Regions from separate parts of the Homo sapiens genome. Here region 2 is linked to region 1. Evidence: fine-mapped QTL for protein levels in blood plasma. A gene starts in region 1. The other region holds a variant in brackets. All regions are shown on one strand. Distances are between the middles of the regions.

Evidence for each region. PIP is the posterior inclusion probability: the model's chance that the variant is causal. The UK Biobank Pharma Proteomics Project read protein levels with antibody pairs (Olink). The fine-mapping took linkage between variants from a reference panel, not from the people measured, so its PIPs are less certain.
Region 2: its variant is fine-mapped to the plasma level of the BCHE protein (UK Biobank, PIP above 0.99).

What each region holds. Positions count from the first base shown.
Region 1 is chr3:165,832,750-165,841,272 of GRCh38, forward strand. BCHE (butyrylcholinesterase) reads right to left here and starts at 4,674. Exons shown (of 4, transcript NM_000055.4): 1 at 4,565-4,674. RefSeq lists an enhancer at 4,492-4,786.
Region 2 is chr3:165,714,423-165,722,945 of GRCh38, forward strand. No RefSeq gene overlaps it. Among named protein-coding and RNA genes, the nearest start is that of BCHE, 120 kb to the right of the region's middle. RefSeq lists enhancers at 6,306-6,806, 6,807-7,307. The variant AGAAAG/A (reference allele first, on the strand shown) is at 4,911.

The DNA.
Region 1 (8,523 bases):
AAACGAATCCTACAAATACTAAGCATTTGTATTAGTTTTGTCTTTGTTTATTTAATTTAGATTTTCTCAAAGAAAGAGAATAAATAACTATTCTAATGCCTATGTCCCAGACGTAGGGTATCATATTTCAAATCAGCCTAATTCACCAATGGTCATAGGATATCTAGTGACCTACAAGTATTTTTTATCCCAATAAATATCTCAATTTATTAATCCATGGTCTGGAGCATTTGGTTCAGGGCTTGATACTTAATGGATATATCTATTTCTATATCTAATTCTAACAATATTCATATGTATATGCATATATATTTACATATAAAATGACTGCTATAATAATAAGGTTTTAAAAAAATCAAGCCACAAGATTATTATTTTTTCAGTTCTGTTTGGTACAATTAGATGTGTGCTAAGATCAATAAAACATAATTAAAATATATTTTTAGCAGCATTTCTACATTCATGATATTTAGGTACTATTATATATAATTTAGGTACTATTATATAATGTATCCTTGTCATATGCCATTTATTGACAGGGATACATTCTAAGAAATGCATTGTTAGGCGATCTAATCATTGTGCACACATTATAAGTGTACTCACGCAAACTTAGATGCCATAGCCTACCACACCTTTAGGCTATATGGTATAGGCTGTTGCATCTAGGCTACAAATCTGTATAACATGTTCCTGAATACTGTAGGCAATTGTTAGAAAATGGTAACTGTATGTGTATGTAAACAGAGAAAAGGTACAGTGAAAATACTATATTATAATTGTATAAGACCACCATTATTGATTGAAGCATCATTATGTATTGTATGACTGTATCATAAATCACAGTAAATAAATAAGTAAAATATAACAATGACTTAAAGTTTCCTGTTACCTGACACTAATAACATTTCAGACATAATCAAAGTTTTAGAGGCACTCTACTGCTTCAGTTCTTTTTTCTTTCTGATAACCGCTAATCCTTTTCTCTTTAATAAATGCAGGAGAGCATCTGGAGAAAAACAAAGTGCTAGTATGATTTTTTTTATTTTCTGTTTTGAAAACATCCTCTGGGAAGAAAAAGTGAATAAGGTGCAAAGCTGATTGGGCGGTTCGTTCTAAGCTGCAATTTAATAAATTAATTGCATCATCCCTGGTTGTACCCATTCTCCCTCTTGCCTAGCTCAGTCAATGTTCTTCTAAGTCTAATGCAAAAGCCATCTATTTTTTCCTTGATTTTATTTGAATATTAGTTTGTCTTTAGAAACCAAACACCAAATTGAAATAAATTTTGGTCTCTGATAGTTTTCAAACTTGTTCTACAAACAGTTTATATTATTGCAAAGCAAGTACTATAGTTGCTACAAAACTGTATTTGTGTTTTGTGTAATTATGAAATGTGATGTTTCATTGTTTATGTTAAACAGTTGCTATAACATCTAAATGGTTGTAATATCTTCCCATGTCACTTAACTTGATTTAATACAAAATTTATTATATGTTGATATTTATATTTTATGCTGAGTAGGTCTTGTTATATAATAATATGGTATGAATTAAAATCTTTAATTTTTCGATAATGATATCTGAGTTATCAACTTGCAAATAATGTAATTGGTAACAATCAAAGCAATTCTTGTAAGCATGCATTCATTGCAAAAATGACAATATAATGCTAACTCATATGTATTGTTGCAGAGTGTCATATGACATATTATTTAATGTGTACTTTAATATAAAAATATGCAGATGTTCATATACTGTTAGTGTATTGTAGGCTAATGTTTTTATATTTAATTGCAGTACTTTATTTTTTAAATAAGCATCACTTTGCCCTTTTTATAATCTGGTATTATCTATTCTAACATGCTACTCTGTAGTTTTGCCATTAAAAGACTTTAAAAATTTTGATATGTTTATCATGTAATTGAGCAATCGAAAGAGAAATAAATGAAAATAGAATAAAAATATTGAGTCTATATCTCAAAATTTTTATTAATGATTAGGATATTCAACAAAACATTATCGTTTTTCTTTTTTTTAATTTTATTATTATTATACTTTAAGTTTTAGGGTACATGTGCACAACGTGCAGGTTTGATCGTTTTTCTTTTAATAAATTCTGGTGCAATTGGATACTGTCTCACATGATTCTGAGAGAACATAGTAGCATAAACATTATCATAAAAATGGGGCACATTTTCACAAATACAGCTGTGTATCTGAATTTAGATCAATTTGCTTATCAAAATAGTATTTAATATTGGAAATAAAGACAGGAGTTTTTGTTTGGAATTCAGACCATTCTAGTTTTTGAGGAATTGAGTTTTTGAGGAATTTGAGTTTTTGAGGAACTGAGTTTTTGTTTGGAATTAAGAAAATTTACTGGCAATTTTTGAAAATGCTAAACTGTTATAACAATAACTTTCAAATAAAAAAGGTGACAAATCTTTTTTTGTATTTTTAATTCAATTTTGAAAGTACTATTAATATTCCCTAGCTGATTTTAACAAAAAATACTAAATGTTATACTATAAGATGTGAGTGTGATAAAATAATTTGTATAAAGAGCTATTTTTTGGGATACTTGAATATCAACCAGATTTTCAAAATAAGGGACAAGCCAAGAATTTTTAAAAGATGTTCAAGCAAATATTCAAAATATTTTCCCTGTGTATAATTTCCCTATCTTTTAAAAAGTTACAATTAAATAAATATTTATTTCTACTTGGAAATAAACCCTCTTAAAATGGTAGAGAAAGAGCCATCTAGATAATATTAATATGATCTAGAACAAGCTCTCTTAAATGTATTTGAAGAAATTGGAACAACGACGTCTTTATATCAAACTTAAAAAGCTTGTTTTGTTGCAGACTAAGTGAAGTGGGGAATTGAGGAAGTCTGATTATAAATAGACTACATCACTGTCTTTCAGGGATTCTTCAGCTATGCTTTAGGCATGTATACATATAGAAGACACTACATTAGATATAAGAAACTTAAGATGTTTTATCTGTCCTCAATTAGGAAGAACATTTGCAAACTTCATTGTGTGAATAATTTGAACATTTATTAGAGAGATTTCTTGAGTCTTCTCTGAAAATTAAATCTCCTCTTAGGTTGCTATCTATTCAATTACAATTCTCTTAACATCTGGGACCGTCTAATTTTGGTAAGAATGAGCAGATGCTGGCAAGAAACCATCGAAATGAAGATAATATTCAATGTAAATATATATTATACTTATCAAGAAATGACTCGAAGAAGGAACCAAATTTATAGATAAGATGTGACTTGTTTAGCTATTAGTAGCTTATGTTTTATAAAAATGAAATATGGAATACATCCCAAACATATTTTTACAATTAAAAAACTAGGACAATACAAACAAACAACAACAACAAAAAATTAGGAGAACAAAACAGAACTTTGATAACCCAATTAGAAATTTATTTGGCATCCAAAAGACTACTTTATTTTATATCCAGAGAAAATTCTGAAGATTTTTATTCAAATGTTAAAGTCACACTTTAAAAGCTCACGCTTATCCTTAAACAAAGTAACTACTTATATAAGTAAACTGTCATTGTATTTATTGTAACTATGAGATAGTTTATATTAAGGAAGGCATTACACAGACTAGTGACAGGAGCTCCTAATTGAGTTTATTATCATGAAATATATTCATAAAAATGTAGAAGACATACTCATAAAATAAAAATATATAATAAATAGAAATCATAAACAATGAAATCACATTTCAGTTTACTTTTAGTCATTCATAGATTTTATAATCCTTAATATTTAATTCCCTGGTTAAAGTGGAACTGATGTTATCAAAATAATAGTTTTACAAGATTATAGGATGAGCAGAAAGTACATTTGCTTACTATTTCTATAATAGTAAAATAATAGCAAATGTAAAATATTTTGCTACAATTTAAACAAACATATAAAAAGTGAACACAAAGGGCAAAGGGGACACGCTCATAAATCACTGTAAATCAAATTAGAAAACAGGTTTTGTTTTTATTTACATAAAATAAACAGACCTCTCATTTGCCAGTTGTTACTGTTAAAGTTTTAGGTGACAAAATGTTGATTGAGAAAAGTATTTTGTTCAGGAAAAAGTAAGTTAACTACTAACTTTATCCCATTTAAAAAGAAAAAAAAAGGAAGACTAATCAAAGATTACTTTTACAGAGAGATTCAATAAACAATGCATTTAAGGGTAAGCCAGTATGAAATGTTTTTTCTTAGGAAACTCACTAAGAATATATATCACAGTGATTCCACACGTGCTATGGTCCTTTATACAGAGTTGAATAAATTCATTATTTTCTCAGCAGTTAAATAAACAAAGTCTGCGTTCCCTGAATAATAGGAAGATTTGATGCATGTGCCTGCTGGCTCACTTCCTCTGTCCCATTTGCAAGCTTCAGTAACTGTTCCCCACAGAGCACCAAAGGGACACAACAAACACATGAAGAGATCACTCTCATCCCACAGAATGAGCTTTACAGTAACTTGGATCTCTACACGAAGGTGTAAATTCAGAGCAACTTACCCGATTCTCTGCAACAAAGATGGCAAAGTTTGCAAGGAGTGAAAATCATGTAATACTTCGGGGAAATGCAGGATGCAGCTGCTGCTCCAGCCTGTAAATTGGACTGCACTGACATTCAGTGTTACTGAATGTAACAATCAACTGTTACTGACAAAGCTCGCGAGAGTTGGCAGCAGCAACTTGAAATCTGTTCAGAGGCTAATGGTATAAATGCAATAGTGATTCATTTACAGAAGTATTACAGGATTCATGCTTTACAATTGCAGGTAGTCTTCTAAGAATGAAGAAAAAAAGCATAGAAGATTCTTTAACTAAAATAATCTGAAATGTAACAGAAAATGCATGTTTCTTTTAACTCTAAACTTTAAAAAAATTTTCCTTTTTTTAAGAATATACATATTTCCTATGCTTGTCTTAAGATTTAAAGACGTATACATCATTCTAAAGTAGTGCTATTATTGAAATCCATTATAGCTTCAATCTGTGCTAATTATATAGTTAGAGAAGATAGTAATATAGAAAATAAGAAACACAATGCTCTAGATATAAGCTATGCAAATCAAAAACTTAGTTCTATTAACTGAATGGATGTCTCTGATATGTATCTCCTTTCAACCCCCACACTTCAACACTTATTTAAGTCATACAAATTTCAGCATTGGTAATTTCCTATTCAGAAGACCCTGCAGGCAGTCATACATGATGAGAAGCCACAATTTTCTGGTCAAGACAGGAAAAATAAAATGAATAACCTTCACCAAACTCTATAAAAGAGACACATTTGTCAACTTGCAGTGCACATGCTCTGGAGAATATATTTATGTCTTTGGCGCTTATCTTTCTTGAAATGATGTTCAGGAAAATAATTTTTTAAAAAACCTTTGATAAACTCCTTAATCCCTATCTTCTCAATGCAATATATTCTTAATCTTCTGTAAGTGATAGCTTTCACTTTTGAATCTCTTACTTGTGGGCTTTCTATGGACTAAACAGAAGGCATGTATTAATATTTGCAGGTGAGCACTTTTTTGCCTTTTAATAGAGTGTTAAATTTTCAAACAAGCAAATATAATTAGCATTTGTTGTAATTCTACCTTATGCCAGTCATTATAATTGACAATTTATATTAAATATTTTATATTATTTCAGCAAATATGAGAGTTAATATTATTAACCACCTCATCAGATGAGAAAGCTAAGGTTTCTACAAATCAGAAGCTTACTATATTTCTTACCACTAGTAGCTGTTGGAAAACAGAATTTTAATCTGTATTATTCTGTTATTTTATGTCAACTGCTTCCAAGAGAATAACCATTTTGGTCTTTTAAAATTATCTTTTCTGTGAAAATTGCTACTTAGGCAGTGTTAATTCAATGATAAATATCATGATCACAATAATTTATAATGTATTTAGAATATAGTTTATGTAATAACAAGTTAGTTACACAAAAGGTACAGAATACATAATCTATCTGAAAAGGAGAAAAAGGAGGTGGAGCACAGTGGTTCATGACTGTAATCCCAACATTTTAGGAGGCCTAAGTGGGCGGATTGCTTCAGTCTGGGAGTTCAAGACAAGTCTGGACAACATAGCAAAACTCAATTTCTGCAAGAAAATGGGTCAGACATGGTGGTGCAAGCCTACATTCCCAGTTACTTGGGAGGTAGCTGAGGTAAGAGTATCACCTGAGCCTAGGAGGTCGAGGCTGCAAGCCACGATTGTGCCACTGCACTTCATCGTGGGTGACAGAGTGAGATCCTGTCTCAAAAAAAAATTAATCAATAAATCAATAAAAGCAGGAAAAGGCTTTTTAAATGGAAGTATATTGACAAATTTGCAATGGTTTTTATAGTGATGGCATTTCTGTTTAAAATATAGTAAATCTGATGTTCCACATGAGAGTTCATGGGTTCAATATACATGATTTTTAAAAATCCAAATGTCAAAATTCTTCTCTCCAACCCAAGTCCACTGCATTGTTTCCTGTGCTAGCATAAGGTCAGCCTATCAAACGCGGCAATTATTAAGGAATATTTTGTGACGTTAGTGAATTCAGCAAAGCATTTTACATGCTTCCTGCATCTACTCACTGCTAGGTAAAATATGTCACATATATACACATATTTCATTTTCATCTTTAAACAGGAAGCCAAACAATAAAATAATTGGTTTCAAGCAGATCTTTATCTTTAACGCATGTTTAAACTGGCTAACTAGCAACATCAACTGATTACACAAGTTGGCAATTTTTCTTCTTCTCAATGTCTTTACTTCAAAGAACCACCTTCTGTTACTGTCCCTGTAGTTCTTTTCCTCGCATGATTTCACAGCTATGCCACATTAGTTCATTCATTATTTTAGTGCACCTCTAAAGCATTTATTCTTCCTGTCTTGAGAGTTTCTTCCTTGTGGCTCAACTTACAGCAGCTGCTTTGCTTCTGTGGTGTCATCATTTTCTCACACTCATCCAGCGGAAGGATGTAGGTCACACACAGTGAGCTTGTTTCAGGGTTAGTAGGGAAGCACTATTCCATTACATCACAGCATGGATGGTTAATGATCCTGCTGTTAAATGTTGAGTATGCCTTGTAAGCGACACTGATGAAATACCACAAGACACTTGACACGGCATTAACACTGCGCACATTTTGCAACCATATATGCTGAAGCTTGGGCAGGACAATCATTATGGTTTTGGCTCTATGATCACTTTCAGTTAGCCAGTCACAGTGGTTTTTTGCTTTTAAGGTCCCATTGTAACTCAGTTACCACTGTTTTCTAGATAGCAGCATTCAGTAAGATTTGAGATGGTGTGAAAAACATTAATCCTGTATTATACATTAGTTTTCCTTAGGCATACTGATGCCAAAAAAGTGCTCTAAACTTATATTAATTTTATTCATTTTTTTTACAATAGCACTGCATTCTCTGAAATGAATATGGATAACAAAGAAAAGTATATATAAGTATAGATAGATAGATAGATAGATAGATAGATAGATAGATAGATAGATAGATAGATTTTTTTTTTTTTTTCCTGAGATGGAGTCTCACTCTGTCGCCCAGGCTGGAGTGCAGTGGCAGGATCTCGGCTCACTGCAACCTCTGCCTCCTGGGTTCAAGCAATTTTCCTGCCTCAGCCTCCTGAGTAGCTGGGATTACAGGCACCCACCACCAAATCTGGCTAATTTTTGTATTTTTAGTAGACACAGGATTTCACTATGTTGGCCAGGCTGGTCTCGAATTCCTGACCTCAGGTGCTCCACCAACCTCGGCCTCCCAAAGTGCTGGGATTATAGGTGTGAGCTACTGCATCCAGCCCAGAAAAGTATATTTCTACATTTTACATATCACAGAGAATGAAAAGACCATTTTGTATATTCCAATCAATTTTTTAAAATATGTGTATGTGGTTATAGTTACATAGATAAATATAGTGGTAGTCAAATGGCTTATCATCATTCTTCTTGCTTTTTATCTTATGATATTAATTTCCTATTAAAATATTTTGATTACTGTGTGATATATTATCATATGGGCATATTATGGTTCATTGTATCTCTTGTTACTTATATGATGATAATAATAATTTTAGGTAATAAATATTATTTGAAAGCACTATTCTATCCACTTTGAATACATGAATTCATTTAAAACTCATGACTACCTTTAAAATAAGCACTATTATTAACCTTATTTTACATTTGAGAAAATATAGCCACAAAGAGTTTAAGTAACTTGCTCCAAATCATACAGATACCGAGGTTAGCTTCTGACTTTTTTTATGTATTATTACAATAGGCATTTTGTATATCGATATTTGAGTGCATCTTTTAATTATTTTCTTAATTTATTTTCCCAGAATTGGAATAACCAAATACGACATGGACAAAGTACATATACATATATGTGTGTGTGTATATATACATGTGTGTATGTATATATATTTATATGTAT
Region 2 (8,523 bases), 120 kb before region 1:
GGGTTAATCTAAAATGCAGAGAAAAACTTCAAAACAACCAATGAGAACCTATCCAAGTCCTATAACTGATTATAAACTATCCTTTGAAGAGAATAAATACAAGACAACAATTGCCTGTGGATGACAAAATGTCTTAGGTTAGTTCACAGTCAAAAACACAATTGACAAGGAAATTTGGTTATTTCTGTGGCTTACGGTAACTTAACATAATAATGCTATTTATGATTGCTAGCATATACTCAGACATTTGAATTTTAGAAATCCCATACAATTTTGGAACATACATTATCGTTTACTAAAATATAACTTAAACAAGATTAAACCTTATTTTTATTTGGAAAATCCCATGTAACTAAACATGTCAAATAATCCTATTTACCTCTTGTTTGAATGCTCCAGGGGCCCTCTGTAGCATCCCAAAATTAGGGGTCAGAAAAGATAATTATGAAGCTGAAATTTGATTTGGGGAAGCCTATCAAATACATTAAAGGTTTAAAACACTTGATATTATAAAAAGAATTCCAGATTACCATAAGTAATTTATTTAGCCAAAATGATGATTCAACATTTTTTTTTTTTTTTTTTTTTTTTGAGACGGAGTCTTGCTCTGTGGCCCAGGCTGGAATGCAGTTGCGCGATCCGTCTCACTGCAAGCTCCGCCTCCCAGGTTCACGCCATTCTCGTGCTTCAGCTTCCCAAGTAGCTGGGACTACAGGCACCTGCCACTACGCCCGGTTAATTTTTTGTATTTTTTAGTAGAGACAGGGTTTCACCGTGTTAGCCAGGATGGTCTTGATCTTCTGACCTTGTGATCCGCCCACCTAGGCCTCCCAAAGCTGGGATTACAGGCGTGAGCCACCGTGCCCAGCCGCTTCAACATTTTTTTGGAAAAGCAAAAACCTTTACTCATTACTAGGGCAGACTCAGCTTTCCAAACGATCTGTCTCTTGTCTTTTCCTTCTTTTTTCAGTAGTTTATTCACAAAACAAACTAAAATTTTTCAATATCCTTAACATTACATGAAAATCTTGTTCAAGAGAGATAGACAAATTTCACCCTTTATTTGTCTTTTAATGTCAATCCCAATTTTTTAATGAAAACTTATAGAAAAATCTATCCAATTTTAATCAGTTTGACCATGAGGTGAGATTCTTACAAACCTTTTATAACTCTTAACTAATTTTTGTTAAAGAGTATATCAGTGCCTTAAGAAACACTTGTGCTTTTATTCCAATGCTCAATTTATGGAAAAATCGAATAATACCCTTTTGAATTTAGTCAGTATGTTCACACACAGATTTTATTTTACAATATTAAGTTTTACAAACCTTCCCAACTCATTTAAACCTTTAGCTTTATCTTAATTAAAAATAATTATTTAACCCTCTACAGTAAGAAAAAATTTACATGTCTTCCTATAATCTTTTATTAAAAACACATTTTACTTACCTTAAACACCTTGCATGTAAATCTATTTTCAGTAGTCTCAATACATGTTAAATGGTAACTCTTAGCAATTTTTTAAATTTTGGTGTAAAACATGATAAGTTATTTTAATTATGTACTAGGTGCAGATAAGGCCTAACTCTTTCCAACATAGTCGGGGTGTGGTTAACTTCATATGTCCCCAGGCCTTACCAAGCTGAAAAGAAGGCAAGTCAAACAATTTTCAAAAGCCGAAGAAGCATTTCATGACCTTAAAGCCTTTAGCAACCCTAGTATCTGACCTGCATAATGTAGACCATATGTCTACTTTTTTTTTTTTTTTTTTTTTGAGGCAGAGTCTCACTCTGTTGCCCAGGCTGGAGTGCAGTGGCATGATCTTGGCTCACTGCAAGCTCCACCTCCCAGGTTCACACCATTCTCCTGCTTCAGCCTCCTAAGTAGCTGGGACTACAGGCACCCACAACCACGCCCGGCTACTTTTTTTTTTTTTTTTTTTTTTTTTTTTGCATATTAGTAGAGACGGGGTTTCACCGTGTTAGCCAGGATGGTCTCAGTCTCCTGACCTCGTGATCTGCCCGCCTCGGCCTCCCAAAGTGCTGGCATTACAGGAGTGAGCCACTGCAACTAGCCCATATGTCTACACTTTGAAGACATTTTTATTTTACCAATAATCTTTAAAGCTGTTTTTATTTCTCAAAGATTAAAGTCATGTGAACAAAAAGGCATTACAGCTTTATTTTTCTTTAAAAATATTTTATGCAAATGCTTATTTTTTCCTTAAACCAGTCAATTAAAGCTCTTTTTTTTTATATAAGCACCACACATAGAACACATACATAACTACAGAGAAAGAAGATCCAGTAGTTGTTAGATTTTCATTTGCCCATCTAATTTTATTTACTGGCCTCAGGGTGGAGCCCTTTAAGAAACAGGGCTATGAAACCATGCAGTATCTAGGGCCTAATAAGCAGGCATAGTTGGAAGACAAAAACAGATTTTGAGATCTATCTGCCTCTAATTCCTGGGGTTCCATGAGAAAAACAGGTTTTTGTTTGTTTGTTTGTTTTTGTTTTTGTTTTTCTTTTTTTACAAAAATGGGGTCAGTGGCATCTCTTCTGTTCTTCCCAAGGAGTTCCAAACCATCAAAAGTTGTCTTAGGGCCTCTTATGTGTGCATTAGGAGTGGCAAGATGAAATGGAGAAAAATAATTAAGTTGGCTAAAAAGGAAAAAAAAATCCTTTTTCCAGAAAAACTAGATCCATTGAGAGAAAAGACATAAAGGTCTTTTATATATGCCTGATATGCCTGTAGCTTGGATATCCACTTTTAGTTAAGCTGACTTTTAACCATATAAATCCTTTTTATTTATTTATTTGAGATGGAGTCCTTTTCTGTTGCCCAGGCTGTAGTGCAGTGGCATGATCTCAGCTCATTACAACCTCCGCCTTCCAAGTTTAAGCAGTTCTCTGCCTCAGCCTCCTGAGTAGCTAAGATTACAAGCACCCACCACCATGCTCAACTAATTTTTGTATTTTTAGTAAAGATGGGGTTTCACCATCTTGGCCAGGCTGCTCTTGAACTGACGTCGTGATCCACCCACCTTGTCCTCCCAAAGTGCTGGAATTATAGGCGTGAGCCACCGCACCCGGCCAGAAATCCTTTTTTAAAAAGTCCTCTTAAATGTCTTATTAACCAGCCTTAGCCATGCCAAATGGCCAATATGGCTGGCTTTTGAGCCTTAACAAAATTAACCTCACAGGTAAAACTGATAAGCCTTACTGTAAAAGTTGTCCCTCTTCAAGAGATTGCTCAGTTAGATTTGTAATATCTTCTCAGTTTGGGGAATGCATCTGAGGGGAGTGTCCTGTGGTGTAGAGATGCAATTACCCATCCTCAAAGAGAAGACAGAAGAGGAAAAAAGGAAGAAAAAACCTTTTTTTTTTTCTTTTTCCAGAGTCTGAGGGTCAAAGGAGTTCCAGAGATTCGGGATGCACTTGAGAAGAGTGCAGGCTAAAGATGATTGGTTCCCCTTCTGGAAGAGAGGACAGAGGGGGAAAAGGCATTCTTTCCTCTCTCCAGAGTCTGAGGGTCAAGGGGGTCCCAGGGATTCAGGAAGCACTCGAAAAGAGTGCAGGCTGAAATGGTTGATTACCCATCTGGAAAGAGGGGGGAAATGGTTTCCATTTGTTCCTTTCTCTTTCAAGCCAATACACAGGGTACATGAGGGAGAGAAAAAAAAGACATCACCTTCTTTATTTTGACATTATATCCCTAAGTCCCGGCAACCTTTGCACATGCCACTTTCACCCATGTAGCAGGGAGGCCTAGTGGATAAGAATATTTGCACTTACCTTTATGCTGCCCTATTCTCCCATTGTCAGTCACCTTTGAGTTCCCTAGACCTTATCTATGCCATGGATGCAACATGACCTCCATCCAGAAGTGGAAGGCCCTAATGGTAGGAATTAGTCATGCTCACCTGCACTGTGCCTCCTGACTTGCACTTTCATCTGCCTCTGGATACCTCAGGTTTAGCTTTCCCTTTGTACGGACTCATTAAATTAAGTCCCAGGTAGCCCTTACCAAATTGCAGCCAGTAATTGGTGGGGCAGCCGAGGCCACTCTTTCATTTCTTCCCTATCATAAGCAGAATGCTAAAGTAAAACTGTGAAACGAGGTCCCCTTCAAACCAAGGAAAGAAAGGGAGTCCTGGGAATTTAGGACTGGGCCTAATAAGATGTCTCTCAAAAGGAAAAAAAAAAAAATCTCTTGCGTAGAAAAGCTCCCCCAATGCACTATGTTGACTGCTTACATGGTGGAGGAAAAAGAAAAAAAAAATAAAAAAGAAAAAACTGAAGTGCAGGGAAGGGGAAGGTGCCCAGGGGAAAGCCTCTTTCCCTATGGAAATGGCTTCCTTCAACAGGGGAAAGAAAAGTCTCAGTTGTTACATTCTCCTTGCTTCTAACAATAGACAGATACCACATTACATTCTTCTGATTTACATTCCTGATCACTAAGCCAAGCGCTTATTATTTTTTCTTTTTTCTTTCTGTCTTTTTTGTTTTCTTTTTTTTTTTTTTTTTTTTGAGATGGAGTCTCACTCTATTGCCCAGGCTGGAGTGCAGTTGTGCTATCTTGGCTCACTGCAACCTCCACCTCCCAGGTTCAAGCGATTCTTGTGCATCAGCCTCCCAAATAGCTGGGACTGCAGGTGCCTGCCACCATTCCCTGCTCATTTTTTGTATTTTTAGTAGACATGGGGTTTCACCATGTTGGCCAGACTGGTCTCGAACTCCTAACCTCAGGTGATCTGCCCACCTCGGCCTCCCAAAGTTCTGAGATTACAGGTGTGAGCCACCATGGCGGGCTTCCAAGTGCTTATTCTAGCCAGTAATATTTTCTCTGAGGTACCCTTAACATTGTATATAAAAAAGAGAATAGTAGCCATTATAGTCAGAGAAGAA[AGAAAG/A]GAAAGGAAAGGAAAGAAAGAAAGGCAGGCAGGAAGGAAGGAAGGAAGGGAGAGAAAGAAAGAGAGAGAGAAAGAAAGAGAGAATGAGACAAAAAGTGTGATAGGAAAGACTGAGGGCCCTAGTGCTGACACCCTAATGGGCAGTTGGGGATGGGAGTTAGTCCAGGGGCCTTTGGATAACACTAAGGTGTAGCCTCAGTCAGATATCTGCAGTTGCCCCAGGACCTCCTTCCAGTCTCAAGTGACAGCTAAATTTTTGTGAAGGGAAACCGGATTGGCAAAAGGCCAACATTCCCAAGACCCAAGAGTGACAAGTGATTGACAGTGTACCCCCAGCAAGCCTGTCCTCTGTGTCTTAAGTCCAGCAACCACACTTGTTGCTTTTAGTTGGCTGAACAGAGGCCCATGTTTTTCTTTCATTCTGGCTAGTGTGTAGTTTATTGACTCCAAAAAAAAAAAAAAAGGATGGAAAGCAGCAAGTCCTCTTTTACTCACTCTCCTGAAGATCCCAGAAAAGCACCTCCAAAAATGTCAGGGGATCCTTGGGGTGTCACTTTGCCAACAAGAAACCTTGGTAGCCAGTGGTGCCTTCTGCTTGAGTGTTGCTCAGGCCCTCTGGGCTTGTTCCACCCACTTGGCCCAGTAGGCTGCACTCAGTTTACGCTACCGGACCGGATCCCTTGCCTGCCAAGGGTGAGCCAGGAGTGAAGCAGTTAGGGATGTGTGAGCAAGGGTGGGGTCTGGTCACTGCACACAGCCAGGCATGCTGGCTGTAGCAGGGCAGGCAGCTCCAGGCCCCTGCTCCATGCAAGGCTGTGGCTGGACCACGAGTACCACAATTGGCTTCCACTTCTAGCACCGGGAAACACAGTGGTACCCAGAAGCTTGGAAATGCCAGGAACCACAGAGCCTCAAAGAGGGTGTTGCAGCCCTGGCTAGGGAAGACCCTAGGTCTAGGATCCCCAAAAGCTGCAGTTCTTCTCTCCTTCTTGACACCTGTAACATGGTGAGGTGGGGCATGTTTCAGCCCCGTTTGTGTTACAACTCTTTCAGTCCTGCTATTCAGCAAGTCCCAAATTCTTGTCCCGTGTCCAGGAAGAATGAGGTCTGTGAACAACTGGAGGGGAAGCAAGGCAGTAGAGGAGCTTCATTGAGCAACAGAACAGCTCTTAGGATACCTGAAGTAGCTGACTCCTTTCCATAGGCAGGTCGTCCAGATAAGTGTCCAGTTCTCAGCAGAGAGGAGACTTGTAGTGAGTAGCTCCTTTCCTTAGGCAGGTCATCCTAACGAGTGTCCAGTTCTCAGCAGAGAGAAGACCTGCTGCAGTTGATAGCTCCTTCCCACAGCTGGTAGTCCTAACGTCTCTGTGAGTGTAGCTGATTCCAGGGTTTTTATGGGCTTCAGAAGGGAGGAAGTGCATGCTGATTAGTCCATGGGTGGCCATGGGCAAGCCTGGAAAAAGCACCGTAAGTTCTCACTCTGAGCCATGGACTCCACCTGGAACTGACAGCCTGGACCCCAGATTTCAAGCCATCCCTGGCTTGAAGGTCTGGCTTTACCGGGGACCTGCCCCTTTTCTTGTCTGCCTCCTGTCATCATTAATCATGTTGTCCAGGCACCCAGGCTGTTTGTGCTGAGGGGTGCATTCAGGCCTACACTGAGCTTCCCTCAGGGCCCCCTTGGCCTTCCTCCCATGTTCATTGGTGATCAAAGTCCAGAGGGGGCTGAGGTGGGAGGGGGCTGGCATTTCAGCACTGCCCCAAGTGCAAGCACACCTTGCCAGGTTGCAACAGCACCCACGCTTGGCCTCAACTTGGCTCCAAAATCAGAGTAGGCACTGGGGGTGGGGAGAGGCCAGGCGTGGGGAGCAGGCACTTCCAAGCCCGTGAGTGAAGGGGGCTTCACAGTCTTCAAGAGCCCAAGGATGTCCAGGTCCACCAGGGCAACTGGGCAGCTGCAGCTGCACCCGGGAGGGAAGGGCTCCTGCCCCACCAACTAGGAAGGGAGCAGAGATTCCACCTGTTTCTGACTCCTGCCAGATCCATGGAGCATGCTGCCAGCTGTGCCTCCCCTGCTGCAGCCGGCATCTTTGCAGCAGTTGATCCAGGTGGGCTGCTGCTGCCAGTCAATTACACTTTTGGATAAATCCTCAATGTAGGCTCCTCCCAGTAAATTATATTCACCATGTAAGACTTCCGTGATTTTACTTACCATTAACTTCACTTTCATGCATTAATTGATTCATTTGGTCAACAAAATATTATTGACATCTAACAAATGAAGCTGTGCTGTATGCTGCATATACAGATATTGCTGATAAAGAGTTAAGTGAAGGAAGTACTTACAGGTTACTAAGGACTGAAGGTGGTGTTTTTCAAAAAAAATCTCAAACCAAAAGCAAAATTATTAAAGAAGTAATATGCTATAATCCCAGAAGATGGATGTAGAAAGAAGAAATCTGAGTGGAATAAAGGACCTTCTACCACCAATATCAGTCAATCCAATAATCAGCAAATATTCTTTTAAGAACTTTCTGTTTTCAAGACTCAATATATAAAACTATCTCTGTTTTTGTGGAACTTACAGCTCTTTAACGGTTGAGGCAGACATGAATAAAATAATCACAAACATAACATTACAGCAGAGTAAGATCTGTGAAAATAAGTCTCACAGTGCCATGAGATAAGGGAAAGACATACTAGGATCAGGGAAGATTTCCTGAAGAAATTAAACTTTGATACAAAGAAATAGAAAATAAACAGATAAATGAAGAGAAAATGAATCTAAGACAGAGGAAGGAACATTTAAAAGGTCCAGTGGTAAAGGCTGAAGTTAACTTGTGTGACTGAAAGAAGACCAGTGTGGTAGAACACATAAACTAATAGTAATATAGAATAATGCCGGATTTTATTAAATTCTTTTATTAAAAACTTAAGCATTTTAAGTAAGGATCTTGGGCTAATTAGAATCTTTTTTAACCAATTGCCATGGTAGAAATGGACAAGAGTTGATAAAGAGGGACAAGTTAGTAGATGTGCCCTGCCGTTGCCCCCATAGATGATTGACATTGCTTGCTCTAGGGAGGAGAATGTGGAATTAAAGAGGGTGGATCCTAGAGATCTGTAAAAGGTAGTATCACAAGAATTTGCTGATGGATATGGAAGATGAGAGAATATGATGTGTTAAAAATGATATATAGTATTCTATTTTGAGAAAGTGGATATAAGCTAATGTTATTTAGAGCTAAGTACCAATTAAAAAGAATCAGGATTGCTTGAAGCGTGTAGGAGTTTCATTTTGGATATGTATGGTAAAAGTGATATTCCTTGAATTATGAAACATTTCTTACTCCTGGGGTGAAAGTGGTAGTAGTACTCAAGTAAGAGACAACAGGAAATTGGTAGTAGCTTGGAATAGATGATAAATGCCTATTTCTTAACAAGGAGGGGTTTTACCGGAGATAAGTTGAAGGATGGTGGCAAGCATTTCACAAAGTAATATTTGGGAATGTTGGATTTATGTAGCAAGAAGCATAGTGGTATAGAGTTTTCTATTTTCTGGTGCAATAGCATGAATTTGGAAGTGTAAAAGAAATATGAACGGTTGA